Regions from separate parts of the Homo sapiens genome. Here region 2 is linked to region 1. Evidence: fine-mapped expression QTL. Tissue or cell type: whole blood. Region 1 holds a variant in brackets; the other region holds the start of a gene. All regions are shown on one strand. Distances are between the middles of the regions.

Region 1 (5,000 bases):
CAATCCTCTCATATTTATTTTGTTGCTCAAACTGTCCCAGCTTGGACCACTGGGAGACATTTCAGGATAATAATATCCTGAAGGTGATCAACAATATTGCAATACCTATTATACAGTAGGTAGTTTTGGGAGCATTTTAACATGATACCAAATGTAAAATGAATCTACCTTAAATTTATATATGGAAAAAATCAACTGAAGACCGAGAAGATCACTTAAAAATCATATGTAATTATGTATTTCTTAAACCTTTATACTTCAAAAAGCAACCTGACATCACAGATTGAGAAAATGTAATTACATCTTCAACAGAATGCTATAGAATAACAATGTCATTGTAAGGAAAAAGCAAATAATAAACCAGTCAGAAGTGCTACAAAAGAAAACACTGAGGAAAAAATAGCAAAATGTAAAGGTGTAAGAATTTTAATTGTCTGCATTTCCTAACTTCCATTCCTCAGCCTCCAGAAATCTAACATTTGCCACTATACAAATGGCTCTCAGACACAAGACAAACTAACCGCCAAAGCCAATCATCCACTTTCAGTACTTACCTAACCAATCTCCCATAACACTTGACACTCTTTTTTTTAATTAATTAATTTTTTTTTTTTGAGACGGAGTTTCTCTCCTTGCCCAGGCTGGAGTGCAATGGCGTGATCTCAGCTCACCACAACCTCCACTTCCCAGGTTCAAGCAATTCTCCTGCCTCAGCCTCCTGAATAGCTGGGATTATAGGCATGTGCCACCACGTCCGGCTATTATTTGTATTTTTAGTAGAGATGGGGTTTCGTCATGTTGGTAAGGCTGGCCTTGAACTCCCGACCTCAGGTGATCTGCCCGCCTCAGCCTCCCAAAGTTCTGGGATTACAGGCGTGAGCCACCACGTCCACCCACTTGACACTCTTGACTATAATAAACTCACTTAAGAAACCCACTGAATTCACCATAAATATTGTCATTCCTTCTCATAGCCTTAATAATAAAGTATCTATAATTATCTTCAGGTTTTACCTCTCCTTTGAGCTACAGATCCATCTGTCCTACAAAACAGGCTTGAAATCCAAATTTATTACCTATTTCCAACCTTATCCTTTTGCATATCTCATTTCACTTAATCACATCATCTCTACCTTGGCTCAGAGCCTCATAATAAGAGCCTCATAATATTTTGTGGGAGCAGTTTCCAAACTGATCTACCTGATCTCTTTTCACTAATCCATCTATCACACTGCTGTCAATGTAATCTCAACAAATTATTCCCCATCTTAAAACCCTTAACTTCTCATACCTTATAAAGTAAACTCTATACTCTTGGGAGTCTCATATAAACGAGGACTTTATGATCTGCCTATCTTTCCAGTCCCATCTCTTGGGTCCCATATCAAACCATTAACACTTAACTAAGCACAGTAACACATCCCCATGCCCTTGCAAAGCTGATATCTAGTGTAAGAAACACGTGTCACACATTATTCTTCGCTGCTAAATTCAAAACTCCCTCCTCCTTCCCAAGACCTTTAAAGTCAGTCCCTCACTTCTCTGCTCCCCAAAATGCCTTGTAAGTATCTCAATATTAAGAACCGTCAGGCTGTGCGCGGTGGCTCACACCTGTAATCCCAGCACTTTGGGAAGCCGAGGCGGGTGGATCACCATAGGTCAGGAGTTCGAGACCAGCCTGGTCAACATGGTGAAACTCCGTCTCTACTAAAAACACAAAAATTAGCTGGGCATGGTGGCACACACCTGTAATCCCAGCTACTCAGGAGGCTGAGGCAGGAGAATTGCTTGAGCCTGGGAGGCGGAGGTTGCAGTAAGCCAAGATTGTGCCACTGCACTCCAGCCTGGCCAACAGAGTGAGTCTGTCTCAAAAAACAAAAAACAAAAAAAAACAAAAAAAAAAACTGTCA[A/G]TAACTATTCATATACATGTCTAAACTATAAATCAACTTTAAAGCAGAAATTACCTTTTTTTTTTTTTTTCTGAGACAGAGTCTCGCTCTGTTGCCCAGGCCGGAGTGCAATGGTGCAATCTCGGCTCACTACAATCTCCACCTCCTGGGTTCAAGTGATTCTTGTGCCTCAGCCTCCCGAGTAGCTGGGACTACAGGCATGTGCCACCATGCCTGGCTAATTTTTGTATTTTTAGTAGAGGCAGGGTTTTACCATGTTGGCCAGGCTGATCTCGAACTCCTAACCTCAAGTGGCCCACCCACCTCGGCCTCCCAAAGTGCTGGAATTACAGCATGTTCCTTCTCCTGGCACACAATAGGCACAAAATAACTGTTTGCTGAAAGAACAGCTACCATCATAAGGGAATAGTTAAGAATAAAAATCAAATACATAAAATACTCCTAAACAAAACCAGTTCTGACTTTCAAAGGGATCAAAACAAAAGATATCTGAGCCTGAATTAATATTTTTATTTAGTATTCTGCTTAACTAAAAACTTTTCCTCGACTGGTTTTTGTTAAGACAACTAAACCTATTCTCACATCTACCTGAAAAAAGTATATTAAGTTTCTATTAGAAAATCAAGTCACATCTCCATGTACTTATCAACAGTAATTGTGAAGAAGATGGAGAGATTCCAAGATAGAGAACAATTAACAAAAGAATTTAGACTTATGATCAAGTAAAGAATATAGCTGGTCTTTGTCCCTGGTTCCTGGCACAGAGTTTCAAAAACCCTTGTAATTACCCAAGTGACAGGAATGTCTCTGTTACGACAGTGAGATGAAAGCCTGAGGTAACTTCAAGATGGGGGCCGGTGACCAGAAAGACCAAATCACATAATTAAAAATCTGAAACTTTGGGTCACCCCAACCTCAAGGGAGTGGAGAACTGAAAATTGAATTAAAAAACATGGCCAATGATCTAATCAATCCGGCCTACCTAACAGAGCCCCAATAAAAACTCTGGACACTGAGGTTCACTGGAGCTTCCAGGTTGGTGAATATAGTGATGTGCTGGGAGGGCAATGTGCCCGGATTCCACAAGGGGAAAGGCATGGAGGTCTGTGGACCCTTCTTGCACCAAACACTGCTCTATGTATCTCTTCAACTAGTTGTTCTTGATCTGCATCCTTTGTAACAAAACTGTAATCATACTATAGTGCTTTCACAAGTTCTGTGAGTCCTTTTAACAAGTTACCAAAATTGAGGGGGTTGCACGAAGTTGCAAATTTTTAGCAGGCCAGGCAGAAGTATGGATGTCTCAGGAACACCAAAATTTGTGACTGGCATCTGCAGTCTCATGATGAACTCTGCTCTTAACTTGAGGTCTTCACTAGCTTCAGGTAATTTGTATTCAGAATTGAACTAAATTGTACAACATCCAATTGGTGATAGAGAACTAGTGTCAGAGCAGTGACTTCAGAGAGGTCTTTGTGGTTTCTGTATGTTATTTTATAAAGAAGAAAAAAAGCCAAGTGCAGTGGCTCACACCTGTAATCCCAGTACTCTGGAAGGCTGAGACAGGTGGTTCTCTTGCGGTCAGGAGTTTGAAACTAGCCTGGCCAATACAGTGAAACCCCGACTCTACAAAAAATTCAAAAATTAGCCAAATGTGGTGGTGCACTTCTGCAATCCCAGCTACTCGGAGGCTGAGGCAGGAGAACAGCTTGAACCCAGGAGGCGGGTTTTGCAGTGAGCCTAGATTACGCCACTGAACTCTAGCCTGGATGACAGAGAGAGACTCCATCTCAAATAAATAAAGAAGGAAATTTTTAAAAAGACAAATTCGTACTTAACACAGGTACTTTTGCATAAACTTCCCTGCTATCTTTCTCATTCCCCAAGGACCCTGAAACCAGGTTCACATCCACCATTTTCACCCCAACTTCTGTAACTGTCCTCTTGGGTAATTTCAATGTCCATGTAGATGATACATTCAACATCCTAACCTGTCATCTCATATCACCTTCACCTCAATTTACTCATCCTTTATAATCTCCTTCTCATGACTCTGAAATTAGGGATCTCAAATCCAAAAGTTCCCTCTTTAAATAGCTGAAGAGGGCCAGATACAACACACAACAGAAAACAGTGAGGACTGTGGCGAACAAAAGAATACAAGCAGCAATGAAAAAGGGCCTGCCAATACTGAGCCCCAGCCATCCCTATTATCCACGAAATGTGGACTAATTGTTGCCAGATGTTCTGATTTTTCTGAGAAGCAGAATTCCACATTTTTATGTAAAATTGCTACATTTTTTAATATGAGCAATTTTTTAAAAAGTGTAGAGATCATCACAAAGAATCACATGTGGGCCAAAAGCTGACAGTTTTTTAAGCACTACTTTAAATACTGCAGTTCCTCAGAGCTACCCAAGGCTGTTTGTTTTTCACTCCCTATTCTCTCCCAAGGAAAATATCATTACTCTCATGATTATACATATAAAAATTCACAAAGGTATACAGTATGTTTTGTTATTGTATGTGTTTCTATATAGTTAAATAGCTCTTGTATCATTGATAAATACAAGAATGATACCAGAATATGGAAGTTGTATTGGTTAATACATGACTTTTAAAGCACATAAATATTTTGCAGGACAAAACTAGCAGCTGAACGAAGGAGTACACCAACACAAACTAAATGAAGAAAGCCATAAGCAATGTAGTTCTGTTCAAAATGTACATTCATCCACATTCTTCCTCTTGGCTCCTACTGGCAACAGACTTTTCTGCAAGTGTTTTTATTGTGTGGCTTCTCTCAATGTTTGTACAAAAGAAACAAACAGGTACAATACACTAGAACCAGCTATGTCTGGCATTGCTACATTTATCTACCAATGACATCCTTCTGTGCCTACAGTTGAGCAGCTTCAACCCTTCTTTATATCCCTACAAGCGACCTTCATCTTTTCCTGGAAGGTTAATGCCTATATTTATTGTAGTATTTCTATTTTTTTTTTTTTTTTTTGAGACAGAGTATCACTCTGCCAGCCCAGGCTGGAGTGAAGTGGCACGATCACAGCTTACAGTAGCAGCCTTGAACTC
Region 2 (5,000 bases), 420 kb before region 1:
TGGTCGCAGGCCTACTCGAGCCTGGTAAGTTCTTTTTATTTTTTGAGATGGAATCTCACTGTGTCGCCCAGGCTGGAGTGCAGTGGCACGATCTCGGCTCACTGCAACCTCTGCCTCCCAGGTTCAAGCGATTATCCTATCTCAGCCCCCCACTCCACAAGTAGCCAGGATTACAGGCACACGCCATCACGCCCAGCTATTTTTTTGTATTTTTAGTAGAGACAGGGTTTCACCATGTTGGCCAGGCTGGTCTCAAACTCCTGACCTCAGGTGATCTGCCCACCTCAGCCTTCCAAAGTCCTAGGATTACAGGCGTGAGCCACCAAGCCCAGCCAAGCCCGGTGTAATCTGATGCAACACATGCTGAGGGCCCCAGCCATCCAGCTCCTAAGGTCAGGGCTGTGCCCGTTTCTGAATCCCAGGATTCAGCCCAGCCTAAGACACTCAGTGGACCATTAGGAAGCAGGCAGAAAAGGAGAATGAGATTTAATACAGTCTGCTCATAGAAAAGCAAGAGGGCCGCACAGAAACAGGAGGCCCAAGGCAAAACCAAAGTTTCTACCAGAGGGCTGCAGACCAGAAGCTCAGTGCAGTTCAAGGGACAGGAGGAGGCAGGTGGGCTGGGAGTCAGGAAGGCCTCATGCAGGGGCACATGGTAAGGCACATGGAATCTGAGGAAGCAGACTCCAGTCCATACTCCCTCATTAAGTTGTGTCACCTTGGCCAAGGTCTTCACTGAGCCTCAGTTTCTCCCTCTGAAGAATGGCAAGACTGGAGAGATCTGTAAGGCCTGCTCACTGGAGATCAGCCTAGAGTGGTGGTCAGGTGTGGGACTCCGGTGCCAGAGGGCCTAAGTGTGTATCCCGGCTCCTTCCCTCATTACTATGACAACGGTGTGACCTTGAGCACATGACTTAACTGCTGTGCCTGGGCTTTTGCCTTCCATAAAATGGGGTTAACTACTCCATCTGGTTGTTTTAAGGATTAAATGAGTTGTACTTACATGGTGCTGGCATGCAGCAAGTTCCATATGCATGCATGTTATCATTGGGTGACCCTGGGCAGTGATCACATCTCCAAGCATCAGTTTTCTCACCTGAAAAAAAGGAGATGATAATAACACTATCTGCCTTACATGACAATTGAATTGAATTTTTTTTTTTTTTTGAGACTAAGTCTCACTCTGTCGCCCAGGCTGGAGTGCAGTGGCGTGATCTTGGCTCACTGCAACCTCCACCTCCCCAGTTCAAGCGATTCTCGTGCCTCAGCTTCCCGAGTAGCTGGGATTACAGGCACACACTACCACGCCCGGCTAATTTAGAATTGAAATAATTTATGTACAGTATCTTAGTACAGGACCTGACATTATAAACAATGAGTGGCAGCCATTCTTATTTAATCAGTCCTAACAAAGTTCATAAAAGTGAGACTGTGTTTGCTTAGCTTTTTCCCTAGGGCCTGGATACCCCCAGCCCCCATGACACACAATAGGGGCCAAATGAATGTGTTGTGAAAAAATGAAAAACAAAAAACAAAAAAGAACATGCTGGGATTCCTTGACAGGGTCGTGAAGCAAACTGAATGTGAATGCACAGATGGAAATGTGCCAGACAGTCATTCCAAGCAGAATGTGCAAAGACTCAGTCCACAGGGAATGCGAAGTGCCAGGGCTAGTCTCAGGAGAAACTGGCTCAGAAGAGACAGCTCTCAGGGAGGGCTAAAGTAGGAAAGAGGCTAGAAAGGGACCAGGTGAGGGAAGGCTCTGAAGGCCAAGCCCAAGAGTTCTGCCTGTCTGGCAGGCAGCAGGGCCTCTGGAGTTTCTTGGGCAAAGAGTGGCTGCTTCCTGGGTAAGGTGGCCTGTGGAAAATCCCTGACAACTGTGTAGAGACATGTCGTGAGGGATGGCAGGGAGCATAGTGAACTAGGTTTGTGGTTTGGAATCAGGGCCCCTGGGGTCCAGCCAAGTTGGATTGTTTACTATCTGTGTGACTTTGAGAGTCACTTCACCTTTCTCAACTGTAAAGTGGGGATAGCAACAGTGATAGTCGATCTGGCCTGCTCACTTCTCAGCCTCACTGTGAGAACCAAATAAGATGATTTACAGGAAAGTGCAAATGAGAGTTGTGGCTGATATCCGCTTGGAGAGAGCCTGGAGGGTGCATCCTCCCATTCTCCATCACAGAGTTGGGGAGGGAGGCACCCTCGCCCTCCAGGGGTTTCCTTTGTCCAACCCAGCCTCCTCCAACACGCGGGAATTGTCAGGCCTGGCGACTTCAGACAGGAAACGCTGTCCAGTTCCCCTTCTTTCCCGCCTCGCTCCCGGGCTGGCGCTAACGCCCACCTCCCAACAGCGCCACCCGCTGGCGGATATCCTGCACCGCGGCTGCCCGCTCCTGCGCCGCTGGCTGTGCCGGCGCTGCGTGGTGTGCCAGGCACCCGAGACGCCCGAGTCCTACGTGTGCCGGACGCTGGACTGCGAGGCCGTGTACTGCTGGTCGTGCTGGGACGACATGCGGCAGCGGTGCCCGGTCTGCACGCCCCGCGAAGAGCTCTCTTCCTCCGCCTTTAGTGACAGCAACGACGACACTGCCTACGCGGGGTGAAGAGGCGTCCTGCTCGCTCTTCCGCACCGTCCTTCCCGGTTAATAAAATGCCCTGTACGCTTCACGTGGGTCGGGGACTGGGGTGAGCCGCGCACTGCCTCGCCTGCAGTCGGGAAAGCCTGCCCGCCCGACCTCTCCGAGCCAGGCCGCGCACAGGAGGCAGGGAGGCCGCGAAGCTACTAGGGAGGGGTCCGGACCTGGCGCCGGGTGAAGGCGCGCCGCCCAAGCCGGTCGGACCGGGCACCGGCTCCCACTCCGCACAGTTGCGGGGAAGCGGTAGCGCTGAGCAGCGCGGGCGTAGTGGGCGGTGTCCCCGCTCCCGAGGCACCCGGCGCGCAGCGGGGCGGGCTTTGCCGGGGGCGGAGCTTGGCTTGGGGCCGGGTGGGAGGGGGCGGGCCGGGGCGGGGCCTGGTGGCCGCGCGGCGCTGCTGGGTTCTCCGAGGCGACCTGGCCGCCGGCCGCTCCTCCGCGCGCTGTTCCGCACTTGCTGCCCTCGCCCGGCCCGGAGCGCCGCTGCCATGCGGCTGGCGCTGCTCTGGGCCCTGGGGCTCCTGGGCGCGGGCAGCCCTCTGCCTTCCTGGCCGCTCCCAAATATAGGTGAGTCCTCCGCCTGGAGTGGGTCGGGGGGCGGACTGGGAGGGAGGTGCAGGAAAGTCGGAAGGCATTAGGGTAATGGGGCCGGACGGAGACCCTGGGAGAGCCCAGCCAGAGCGCGGCCCGCCCTGGTCCGCTGTCCTGGGCCTAGGGCCCGGTGACTTGGCGATGGGGTGAAAAGAGAAGGAGGGGGGATGCCGGCGCCCCCTGCCTCCTGCCTGGTCATCCTCTGCGCGGTCCCTGCGGACACTTTCAGGCTCAGGTACCAGGTACCGAGGGGCCTGTCCAGCGCCACTTCAAGATCGTGATGAGAGGGTCGCTGCTCCCCAGGACTGGCATCTTCGCTGCTCTGGGGCCTAGCTAACCGTTCGACCCGGTGCCAGGGCGCTGAGCGGGCATGGCTTGTAGGGTTTAGTGAAGAGGATTCTCTCTAGCCTCTATTCCAGGCCTGGGGCCGCCAGGCACTCCTCACCCTGGTGCTGTTGCCACCAGTGCCTGGCCGAGCGGGAGGGGCCCGAGATGAGCCAGGAGAAGGGAGAATTGGCCAGGAAAGAGGCTGGGACACCAACTCCTCCTTGGAACTTTCACTTCCCGCTGCTGTCTTGGGCCGGGACCGAGAGGGCAGGCGCGGGTGGAGTGTCCGGAGGAGAGAGGGCCATTGTGTGTTGGGGGGGTGGGGGGTGCTCGAGGAGGAAGCAGAGGCTGTAGGCAGCGGGTGTGCCTGACTGGGCATGAGGGTGTTTAGGGAGGTGGGGGTGTTTGCACTGCTCACCCAGAAATGGGCGTTCCTGGCATCTCCGATGTGAGCGAAGGGGAGGGTGAGCGGGCACCCGGCCACAAGGCTTAGCTCAGTCTCGAGAGGGGGCGTTCCTGAAGTGGGGGGAGAGTGATTGGGAGGGAGTGGGAACCGGGGAGGGTCCTGTGAGAACCTGGGATTGGCCGGAAGGGGACAAGGAGGGCCACAGGCTGCGCAAGCCGAAAGTCTTTCTTGGGGACTTGTGAATGGGTTGGTGGGTGGAAAGCCATAAATTAGAGAGACACCCTCTCCTTCCAGTATTCTTCTTTAAGTCTCAGCATGCAATGTGGAAGCCCCTCAGGTACCTAAGGGTCTTGATGGGCTGGGAGCTGGTGGATCTGAGGGCACCTGTCACCCCCAGCCCTGCTGTCGATTCCCTCAGTACTGTCTTGGGGTGTCCTGGGACCTGCAGGTGGCACTGAGGAGCAGCAGGCAGAGTCAGAGAAGGCCCCGAGGGAGCCCTTGGAGCCCCAGGTCCTTCAGGACGATCTCCCAATTAGCCTCAAAAAGGTGCTTCAGGTGAGCTCTCACTCCCCTCTAATAAATAAACGAATCCACACACGCCCCGGTATAGCCAGGTGTCTCAAAGCCAAAGCTTGGCTGAGGAGCTGGTGGGTAGAGCTCACTGTAGTGGGTCTATCCCAGGCCCAGCTGCCTCTCCCACCACACCCCAGCACCTGGCTTCACTTATCTCCCTCTCCCTCTGCACACACGTGTATCTGTCTGCCTCAGCCCCACCCAACCCATCCATCTCCACTGGGGAAATTGTGAAGCCAAACTTGCTTTCTTCATCTCATGTTGTCGGTTTTCTCAGTGGGGGGATTTGGAAAGAGTCAGGACCTTACCAAACCCCCCCCCCCCCACCCCATTCTAAAGCTGAGTCAGAGGAAGGGCTGGGGCTTGTGCTGGGTCCTACACGGTGCTTCCTCTCTGGGCAGGAAGCCGAGAAGGGGTGGCTCAGATACCTTCCTTGACCTCCGCACACAACCCCCCAGAACAATGCTCCA

What was found. PIP is the estimated chance that this variant, and not a neighbour inherited with it, causes the effect.
Region 2: ADAM15 starts here. The variant in region 1 is fine-mapped to the expression of ADAM15 in whole blood (INTERVAL, PIP above 0.99).

What each region holds. Positions count from the first base shown.
Region 1 is chr1:155,468,588-155,473,587 of GRCh38, forward strand. The region is part of intron 3 of ASH1L (ASH1 like histone lysine methyltransferase); the gene reads right to left. Among named protein-coding and RNA genes, the nearest start is that of ASH1L-AS1, 91 kb to the right of the region's middle. The variant A/G (reference allele first, on the strand shown) is at 1,911.
Region 2 is chr1:155,048,266-155,053,265 of GRCh38, forward strand. ADAM15 (ADAM metallopeptidase domain 15) reads left to right here and starts at 3,051. Exons shown (of 23, transcript NM_207197.3): 1 at 3,051-3,200; 2 at 4,406-4,512. The coding sequence starts at 3,122. It overlaps DCST1 (DC-STAMP domain containing 1), which reads left to right. Exons shown (of 17, transcript NM_152494.4): 17 at 2,352-2,665. The coding sequence ends at 2,603. It overlaps DCST1-AS1 (DCST1 antisense RNA 1), which reads right to left. Exons shown (of 4, transcript NR_040773.1): 2 at 1,004-1,096. ADAM15-EFNA4 (ADAM15-EFNA4 readthrough) reads left to right here and starts at 3,051. Exons shown (of 26, transcript NR_176418.1): 1 at 3,051-3,200; 2 at 4,406-4,512. RefSeq lists an enhancer at 2,226-2,285 and a silencer at 2,756-3,215.